Linked DNA regions of Homo sapiens: region 2 is reported to be linked to region 1. Evidence: microRNA targets listed by miRTarBase, many of them from high-throughput screens and not tested one by one. Region 1 holds a microRNA gene; the other region holds the end of a gene's coding sequence.
Evidence for each region. Region 1 holds the annotated microRNA hsa-miR-6731-3p (UCUAUUCCCCACUCUCCCCAG, at 1,459-1,479, shown strand). A microRNA usually pairs through its seed, bases 2 to 8, with sites in the 3' UTR of a target mRNA and lowers its output. Matches are read on the target gene's strand: a 7mer-m8 pairs with bases 2 to 8, a 7mer-A1 pairs with bases 2 to 7 and ends in A, and an 8mer does both.

Region 1 (4,390 bases):
AGAGAAGACTGTCGAAAGTAAATCTTCATAAACTGCTTTCTACACGGAGAAACCCGTCTGAACATAAAACGATAGAAGAACGAGAAATAGAAGTGAAAATGAAAAACCACCCAGCGTGTGAAGGCAAAATGTGCAGGCCTGTGCCCGGGGAAACTGATGGCCACAAATACAGCATGGAAAGTATTAACAAGCTTAATATATAGCAATTTTTAAAAGGCACTAAAACCTTCACAGGAAAGTAAAAGAACATGAAGCAGTAATTTGTGTTGGATTATGATGGATAATAATCATATAAAAAGTTTCATTCTCACTAGTAATAGAAAAAAAGGCAAACAAAATCAAGAGCGTGTAAAAGATCTTCCATCTTGATAGACACATCCCTGGGGTGTGACGCAGCCTCACACGCGAGGGTGACGACTAAATCTCTCCGGAGAGTCATCTCACTCCAAGAGGGATCCGCGCCCGTAATATGTCCCAACCCTCTGCTGCCGTGAAATCACTCACCGCTTCTTGGAATCTCTTCTAAGGAAATAAGCAGAGATGCAGACAAAGATTTTTATAAACAGAAGGTCACTTTCATTTTATTTTAAATGGTAAAAAAAAAAAAAAGTAGTATTTTAAAAGTTTTTTCCCCTCTCAGGAATTTTGAATGGAGACTTTGGAGCCAAATGTCTATCTAAAAATAGAACATTCTGGAAATAACAGTTGTGTCTACAGAAGAAATGTCTGCAGCTCCCAAATCAGTCCTTTTTCAGCTCCAGCTGCACACATCAATAAGAAATTAGCAACGATGTAAATACCCGAGAGTAAGGAGGTAGATAAATAAAAGATGAGGAGGCTTCCTTGAGTTGAAATATTTTGCAGCCATTAAAAACGAAGTTTATGGAGTTTTAATGACGTGGGAAAGTGCTTCTGATGTGAGGTTAAATGAAAAAAAAAACAGTATGAAAATCTGTATTTTAGTACCACTGCGACTGTGTAAATATACAAACCCATACAAAAAGAGCTGAAAGGGAAAACACCAAATGGTAACGGTGTCTATCTCCAGCTAGTGGAACCGTGGGGGGGGGGTGTCTTTTCTTCTTTATTTATATTTTGTATGTTCTTGAATTTTTCTACAAAGATCACCAATTACTTTCAGAAAATAGAATATACCCATCCTGCTCCCCACCACAAAATCGTGTGGGTCTCTGAATAGAAGAGACAGCAGAAAGGCCAAGAAGAGGGGAACATGAGCCAGGGTGGTCACGGCATGGGGCGGGGGGTTGACAAAGTTGGCGTCAGACCCCCAGGGGCCTTGAATGCCAAGCCCAAGAGCTTGAACTTCACCCAGAGCCCTATCTTCTGCCCATGTTCAAAGAGGACAGAGTGCCCCTTCTTGACAGTTAGGGGCTTCCAGGGGTAGATACAGGTGGGAGAGCAGGGTATTGTGGAAGCTCCAGGTGCCAACCACCTGCCTCTATTCCCCACTCTCCCCAGGGAAGAGTTTCACCCTGACCATCACTGTGTTCACCAACCCCACCCAAGTGGCGACCTACCACCGAGCCATCAAGGTGACCGTGGACGGACCCCGGGAGCCCAGACGTAAGTGCCACCGAGCCCCCTGAGCCCCTGCGCGGGGGAGGAGGGTCCAGTGCGGGAAGGACAGCAGCTAGGTCAGACAGATGGAGCCCTCCTCGGGGGGTTGCAGTCCTTGGCTCTGTGCCCCCACACACTGCGTGCCTGCTGGCAAACCCCTAAACCCTCTGGGCTTAGCCTGAGACCGTGGGAGGCCAGCGAGGAGGCTGGGAGTGGAGATGACTGTCCATGGAGACTACTGAGGGAGTCAAGGAAAGGAAAAGGATGGAGAAAGCTTTCAGATATGGCATTTGTCGGGTGCTTGTGTGTTTCTGGGTGGAGGTTGAGCCAGGCTTGCTTTACTCTGCCCCCAGCTTCTCTGCGGGTGGCTGAGGGATGCATGGAGGGCAGGAGTGATCAAAAGTCAGGGGCTGGTCTGGCTGTGAGGCCAGGCCTCTTCCTTGGAAACTGAGTCTTTGAATCTTAGCATGTGACTTGCTCAGGTCACCCAGAGTCCGGGCACCCAGACCCTATGAGCAGGGAGTTCTGGTCCATCAAAGCGAGTTTGTGTTTAATTCTCTCTGCTTGCTGAAGGTCAGATTAAGGCTGGGGAAGTGGGAGGGTAGGCTGAGGCTCTGTGTCCACAGAATGAATGAATGACTGACTGACTGACTGACTGAATGAATGAATGAATGAATGAAATAGAGCCAGCCAGCTTCCTGAGCTCCATCCCACCTCCCCAAGGCATTTTCAGCTTGGTGCACTGAAGGTTGGCCCACCCCTCTCTTTCTCAGAAATGTGACCCTTTGTAGTTTAGAAGACCTTTTAGCAGTCACTATTGAATGGGATCTTGATGACAGCAGAGCCAGAGGGGTCACCCAAGTTCCAGTGAGGAGAGAATCCAGGCCTGAGGGAGTTGGGTACCTGAATAGGACCTAATGCTGTGCAAGGAGCAGGAAGGCGCCCCAGGCTTCAGTCTTCCCAGAGGCAAGATTCTAGGCTGAGCAGGCCTGGGGCAGGAGGCCTGGGGCAGGAGGCCTAGCCCTGGGCTGGCCCCTCCCTTCTTGGGAGTCAGCTGGGCCTGACACCCCATCATCCAATTCCTGGGCCCATCCCAGCATCTGGCCACTTGGGAAAGGCTTGGAGCTGAGTCCAGCAGCCCTGGAAGAGTTTCCCTCCAGGGCTCTCAGGGTCACCTCTGCCAGCCCTGAGCCCCGGCACGCATCCTCAGGCCTGCACCGTCAGCTCCCAGCCAGCACTTGCCCTGGCCACACTCCTGCTGGTTCCCTCCTGCTGAGATCAGACATAGACCAGCCCATGCCCTTGGCCTTGGGCTTCATGACCCTAGGCAAGTCATGTCTTCTTTGTGGCCTCAGTTTTGTCATCTGAGAACTGGATCAGTGACTCCAGGAGTCTCAAGGTGGTGATGGCTGGGAAGCCCTCATGAGCCATAGACCACCATGGTGTAGAGAGCAGTTTCCAAGCCAGCCTTCCTGGCTGTGGGTCCTTGGGCTAGTCATCTCCGTGCCTCAGTTTCCTGAACTGAAAAATGATATTCGCACAAGCAGCTACCTCATGATGCTATTGCGAGGAAACAGTGGCTTAATCTATAGAAAGCACTTAGCGGTGGGGGTTAGCAAGGGATCCGTCACTTTAGCCAGGGCTGTTATCTGCAGTGTGACCTAGGGCAAGTCACTGACCTCTCTGGGCCTCAGCTCCCTCCTCCATGAAGTGTGATGATGCCACCCACCCTGCGGACCTGGAGATCAGGGGCGACATGTGGACAGCACGTGGCCGTAGCACAGAGGGGTCCCATGAGTCACTGGGTCCGCAGCGTTTTGTCGTCCTCAGTACCCAGCCCCCTTCCTGCACTCCCACCACCACCATTAGTCAACGGTGAGCTCTCTCATGGGCAGCAGCTGGGTGGCTGCCTTGGTAATAGAGGTGCAGGTATCAAGTCTCCATTGAAGGAGGTGGCAGCCCTGCCCTATGTCTCCAGGGGCAGGGTCAGCATGGACAGGAGCCTCAGTTGGGCTCTGGGTGGGGATGCGGCACTCAGAAGCCACTCCAGAAAGAGGGGAGCCACTCCAGAAAGAGGGAGGCACGGGACGGGGTCTTGACGCTTGGTGGGAAGATCCAAGGGACCGGGCAAGGTTGGCCCCTCTGAGAGCCCTCCATGCTCAGCCCAGCCCACCCCAGAGCCGCCCACTCTGCCCTGCTGGGACCCCTGGATGAGCATGGAGACTCAGCCCTGCCTGTGGGAGATTCCAGCAGAATCCCCTGCCTGCTCTTCCCTGCCTGGGTCTCCCAGACCTGAGATGGCCCCTTCTGGGGTGAGCTGGAAGGTAAATGCGTGGCTCAGGACGAGGCAACAAGAGGGAGGGACAGAGGCTGGGCCTGGAGACCCACGGCGTCAGAAGCCAGGCTTGCTGCACCACCTGAGACAGGTGACCTCCCTCTCTGGGCCCCGGCAGCGGCTGGATCAGTGGTTTTATTTACAGAACAGAGCAGAGATGGAGTCGGGGGGCAGTCTACTAGGTCCCCCATCCTTAGGACCTGCCTGTTCCTGTCCCTGGCATATCCTGGCCCTGAGATCAGGTCCCCCCCCATACCCTGGGTTGCAGCCCCACTCCTTTGTCTTTGGCCCTGGACAAATCCTTGGCCTTTCGGGTCCTCAGCGTCCCCATCTGTAAGAGTGAAGGGACCAGCTCAGCGGCTCCTGGTCACTGAGCAACCCCCTCCCTTGCGTCAGGCCCTGTGCAAAGTCCCCAGTAACTGATCTCTTGGGCAACCCCAGGAGAGGATAGAGGCCAGGGCGCAAAACCTTTTGCCC
Region 2 (4,390 bases), not on the chromosome of region 1:
TCTCCCCATCCAGACTCCTCAGGATCTGGGCCCTGGAACTGAAAACTCCCATTGCATTTGCTCCTATGACCAATGGGCTTTGCTGCACATTTTTTCCACATGGTGGAGTCATTGCCACAGGGTATGTATTTGTTAGCTGAACAGATGGGTGGTGCTTTCTGCTGAGTATACCATGGAGCTTTTTAAGGAAAGAAACCATCTAGAATTTTCTTGCCTATGAGGAAAGCTTTAAGGCAATTCAAGATTATATAAAACTCAAATGATCGATTTTGCTAATAACGGTGTCCCATTTTCTCTGAATATTTAACCTAAATGTAATTAAAGATCTGTAAGTCATGCCACCTAATGGGCCAAGTTCACAAGGGAGAATAAAATTGAGATGATGCATAATATATGGGAAACCATTTAGGGCTAAAAGACCACTTTACAGGTAACATCTATAATTCAGTAGGTGGCACTCTTCCCCCTTATACTTTTGAACTAACTGTGGTCAGATTTAGAAAGGGCTGTGCCGAGAGAGAGACAGAGAGAGCGCTTTGGTATCACAGGTGTCTTGAGTTTTTCTAATCCTATCAGCAGCTTTAATTATTCAGCACCACAATTTTACATCCATTTCCACAGTCAGGGTTACATTTCACTCTCCGAAGTCTCCTGCTCTTTGCAGTCAAAACAGAAACATGAGTATTCATCCTCATGAAAACATGAACATCCAAGCTCTGTCTTAGCATCGGTTTCTGTTTCATTTTAGGACAAGAGATGGCCACGTCCAGTTCTGGACAGCTCCTAGGGTCCTGTCCTCACTGAAGCACTTATGCCGGAAAGCCCTTCGAAGTTTCCTAACAACTTACCAAGTCCTAGCACTGCCAATCCCCAAGAAAATGAAAGAGTTCCTCACATACAGGACTTTTTAAGCAACACCACATCTTGTGCTTCTTTGTAGCAGGGTAAATCGTCCTGTCAAAGGGAGTTGCTGGAATAATGGGCCAAACATCTGGTCTTGCATTGAAATAGCATTTCTTTGGGATTGTGAATAGAATGTAGCAAAACCAGATTCCAGTGTACTAGTCATGGATCTTTCTCTCCCTGGCATGTGAAAGTCAGTCTTAGAGGAAGAGATTCCACTTGCACGGCAACAGAGCCTTACGTTAAATTTTCAGTCCAGTTATGAACAGCAAGTGTTGAACTCTTTCTGCTTGTTTTGATTCAAAGTGCAGTTACTGATGTTGTTTTGATTATGCAACTAAGTAGGCCTCCAGAGCCTCTCTAGTGGCAGAGCAGCTCACACTCCCTCCGCTGGGAACGATGGCTTCTGCCTAGTACCTATCCTTGTGTTTCTGATGCAGTGGTAGCATTGGTTCAAGTTCTCTCCTGCTGTGGTCAGAGTTGCTTCGATGTTGGCCAAGTGCTTTTCTTCTTGGGCTCCCTTCTGACCTGCAGGACAGTTTTCCTGGAGCCATTTGGTATGAGGTATTAATTTAGCTTAACTAAATTACAGGGGACTCAGAGGCCGTGCTCCTGACCGATCCAGACACTATTACTGGCTTTTTTTTTTTTTTTTTAACAATGGTGTGCATGTGCAGGAAATGACAAATTTGTATGTCAGATTATACAAGGATGTATTCTTAAACCGCATGACTATTCAGATGGCTACTGAGTTATCAGTGGCCATTTATTAGCATCATATTTATTTGTATTTTCTCAACAGATGTTAAGGTACAACTGTGTTTTTCTCGATTATCTAAAAACCATAGTACTTAAATTGAACAGTTGCAAAGATGTCTTAATTGTGTAAAGAATTGGTGTAGTCATGACTTTAGCTGATACTCTTATGTACGAGATCTGTCTCTGCTGTTTAACTTCATTGGATTAATCAGCTGGTTTCAACTCTACTGCGAAACAAAAATAGCTCCTTAAAAGTACTGTTCTCCTTCAGTGGCATGTAGTTATCTAATCAAGACACCTCATTCAAACAAAACCTGCCTTAGGAAAATTTAATATATTTTAAATTATTTTAAAAGAAATACAACATCTTATTCTTTAGCTTTCTTAATCGGTGCTTTATGGAGGCCAGTGTAACGTTACATGACTCGTTGAGAAAGTTGAGGAATTTCCTCTACCACCTTTGTTGCTTGAAGAAAAACATGTCTTTTCAAAATGAGAGGCTTTCATTGAAGAAAAGAAAAAAACAACAGTTAAAAGCTTTTGGCTCTCTGTTTCATTTTTTTCCATTAAGAAAAAAAAAAGTCCCCTTTTAAAACAAGCAGGGCTGGGTGTGACGGCACATGCCTGTAATCCCAGCACTTTGGGAGGCTGAGGTGGGAGGACTGCTTGAGCCCAGGAGTTCAAGATCAGCCTGGGCAACAGAGTGAGATAAGACCCAATCTTTATTTAAAAAATAAATAAATAAATAGCCAAAAAAACTTAGTGTGGTGCTGGTGTGCATGGTAGCCCCAGCTACTCAGGGGGCTGAGGATGTGGTGGCATTTACCTGTGGTTCTGTGGTTCCGGCTACTCAGGAGGCTGAGGTGGGAGAACTGCTCGAGCCTGGGACATGGAGGCTGTAGCGAGCCACGATCGTGTCACGGTATTCCAGCCTGGGTGACTGACAGAGCATGATCTTGCCTCAAAAAATAAACACATAAAACAAGTAGTACAGCAGAAGAGCTGGGAATGGATTGGCCAACGTTTACATTTCATGGTTATCTTGAAGTTCCAGGTACAGCAGATGCTGAGCCTCTGGGTGGTTTGAGGCCTGGTTGGCCATCAGATATTTAGCTTCATACTTTGCCGCTGTCCTTAAGGGGGTGAGTCCTCCATGAACAAAGGGAATAGTGACTTTTTCCATTTGACAGTTTAAGAATTTGACATTTTATAAAGAACAGCATCTAAAGAAAGTTTATTCTGTGATATTAGAGACAGAAGGTTTTCATATAAATGCAAGTTTGACAAAGTCAGCATCTTTCTAGCTGTCTAAGGAAGAGTCACTTGTAACACAGCCAGCCAGGAGGCTGCTTTGTTTTTTATTATAAAGAACACTAACACAAATGCAGCATGATTGCTGTAAAATAAATGTGAAATTTGTACAAAAGTCCCAGTCCTTCCGCAGTTCTAGGTTTACAGTCAGGCTCAACCTTACTTGCCCCGCTCCTGCATGAAAACAAGTGCGTTTTATACAGCCTCTGCCACCCAGTGGCATAGTTTAAGGCTCTATATTATATTTAAAATTAAGGTTTTTTTCCTATCATACACATCAATTTGGAACCTGCTGGTGACTCTTCTACCACAGAGGGTAAATAAAAAGACCAGTTTTTAAAGTAAGAGGATTCAGCTCATCTTATAAAAGTATAATAGTTTCGGCCAGACGTCCATTAACATCTGTTTAAATTAGATACAGACACAATGCCAAATATTAGAATCATAAATGTAATTTTGGAGATAATGTTTACCTTGAGTAGGAAGACACTTGGACCATATTAAATTTGAAAGTCTTCTGTTCCAGACCAAAATGGGGTAGGCTAATTCCCTGTCATCCAAGCAACTAAAAGGTAAAAACCTTATAACTTTAAAATAAAAAAGGTTATTTTTTTCCCCTATAAAAGACAGGCAGTATGAGTTAATACATTAAAATTATTTTGTACATCCCTGCTCCAAACAACCACAAAAATGGTACTTTTTAAATGCCTGCCCATCCTCTCCTGGAAGGGGGTTTTTCCAAGATTCGGGGTGACTGATTCATCCCACAGCCCCAGGCAGCAGTTTATCCTGGAACTGTCCTCTGTTCTCCCATCACTGCTGAGCCCTGAGAATTGTGAATGGCCCTCAGAGCATCTAGGCCTCTGCAACAATCAGGTCTCTGGTGACTTGAAATGCAGCAATGAGGGAGCTCAGCTGGATCTTCTCGTTGGTGCCAACAGAAAGCCTGTACCTAACAGAAACCAAACACAGGGTAAGAAAAAAGACACCAAACACAGCTGCCTTTTCTTAAGGGACCAAGAGATCTAGGGCTGAAAATCTGTTGAAGGAGTGGGGATGGGAATTGATAGAACAAATGTGCCCTGGATGGCAATCTTGTATGTGTCCCCCTAACATTTTCTTCTCTGCCCTACACATTGATTTATAAATGTGATGTTTCAAACTTGTAAGGACCGATTCAATTTTAAAAATTATTAGGTATCAGGCCGGGCGTGGTGGTTCACACCTGTAATCCCAGCACTTTGGGAGGCGGGCCAATCACTGGAGGCCAGCCTGGCCAACATGGTGAAACCCCCGTCTCTACAAAACAAACAAACAAAAAACAAAAATTAGCTGGGCATGGTAGTGCATGCCTGTAATCCCAGCTCCTCAGGAGGCTGAGGCAGGTGAATCGCTTGAACCTGGGAGGCAGAGGTTG

Region 2: the mRNA of WSB2 is a reported target of hsa-miR-6731-3p. Seed matches in the 3' UTR shown: 7mer-A1 at 1,029-1,035.

The regions. Positions count from the first base shown.
Region 1 is chr1:24,916,434-24,920,823 of GRCh38, reverse strand. MIR6731 (microRNA 6731) reads left to right here and starts at 1,408; the gene lies at 1,408-1,479. It overlaps RUNX3 (RUNX family transcription factor 3), which reads left to right. Exons shown (of 5, transcript NM_004350.3): 3 at 1,480-1,584.
Region 2 is chr12:118,030,717-118,035,106 of GRCh38, reverse strand. WSB2 (WD repeat and SOCS box containing 2) reads left to right here. Exons shown (of 9, transcript NM_018639.5): 8 at 14-121; 9 at 749-2,420. The coding sequence ends at 911. It overlaps RFC5 (replication factor C subunit 5), which reads right to left. Exons shown (of 11, transcript NM_007370.7): 11 at 2,873-3,925. The coding sequence ends at 3,829. Among named protein-coding and RNA genes, the nearest start is that of RFC5, 16 kb to the right of the region's middle.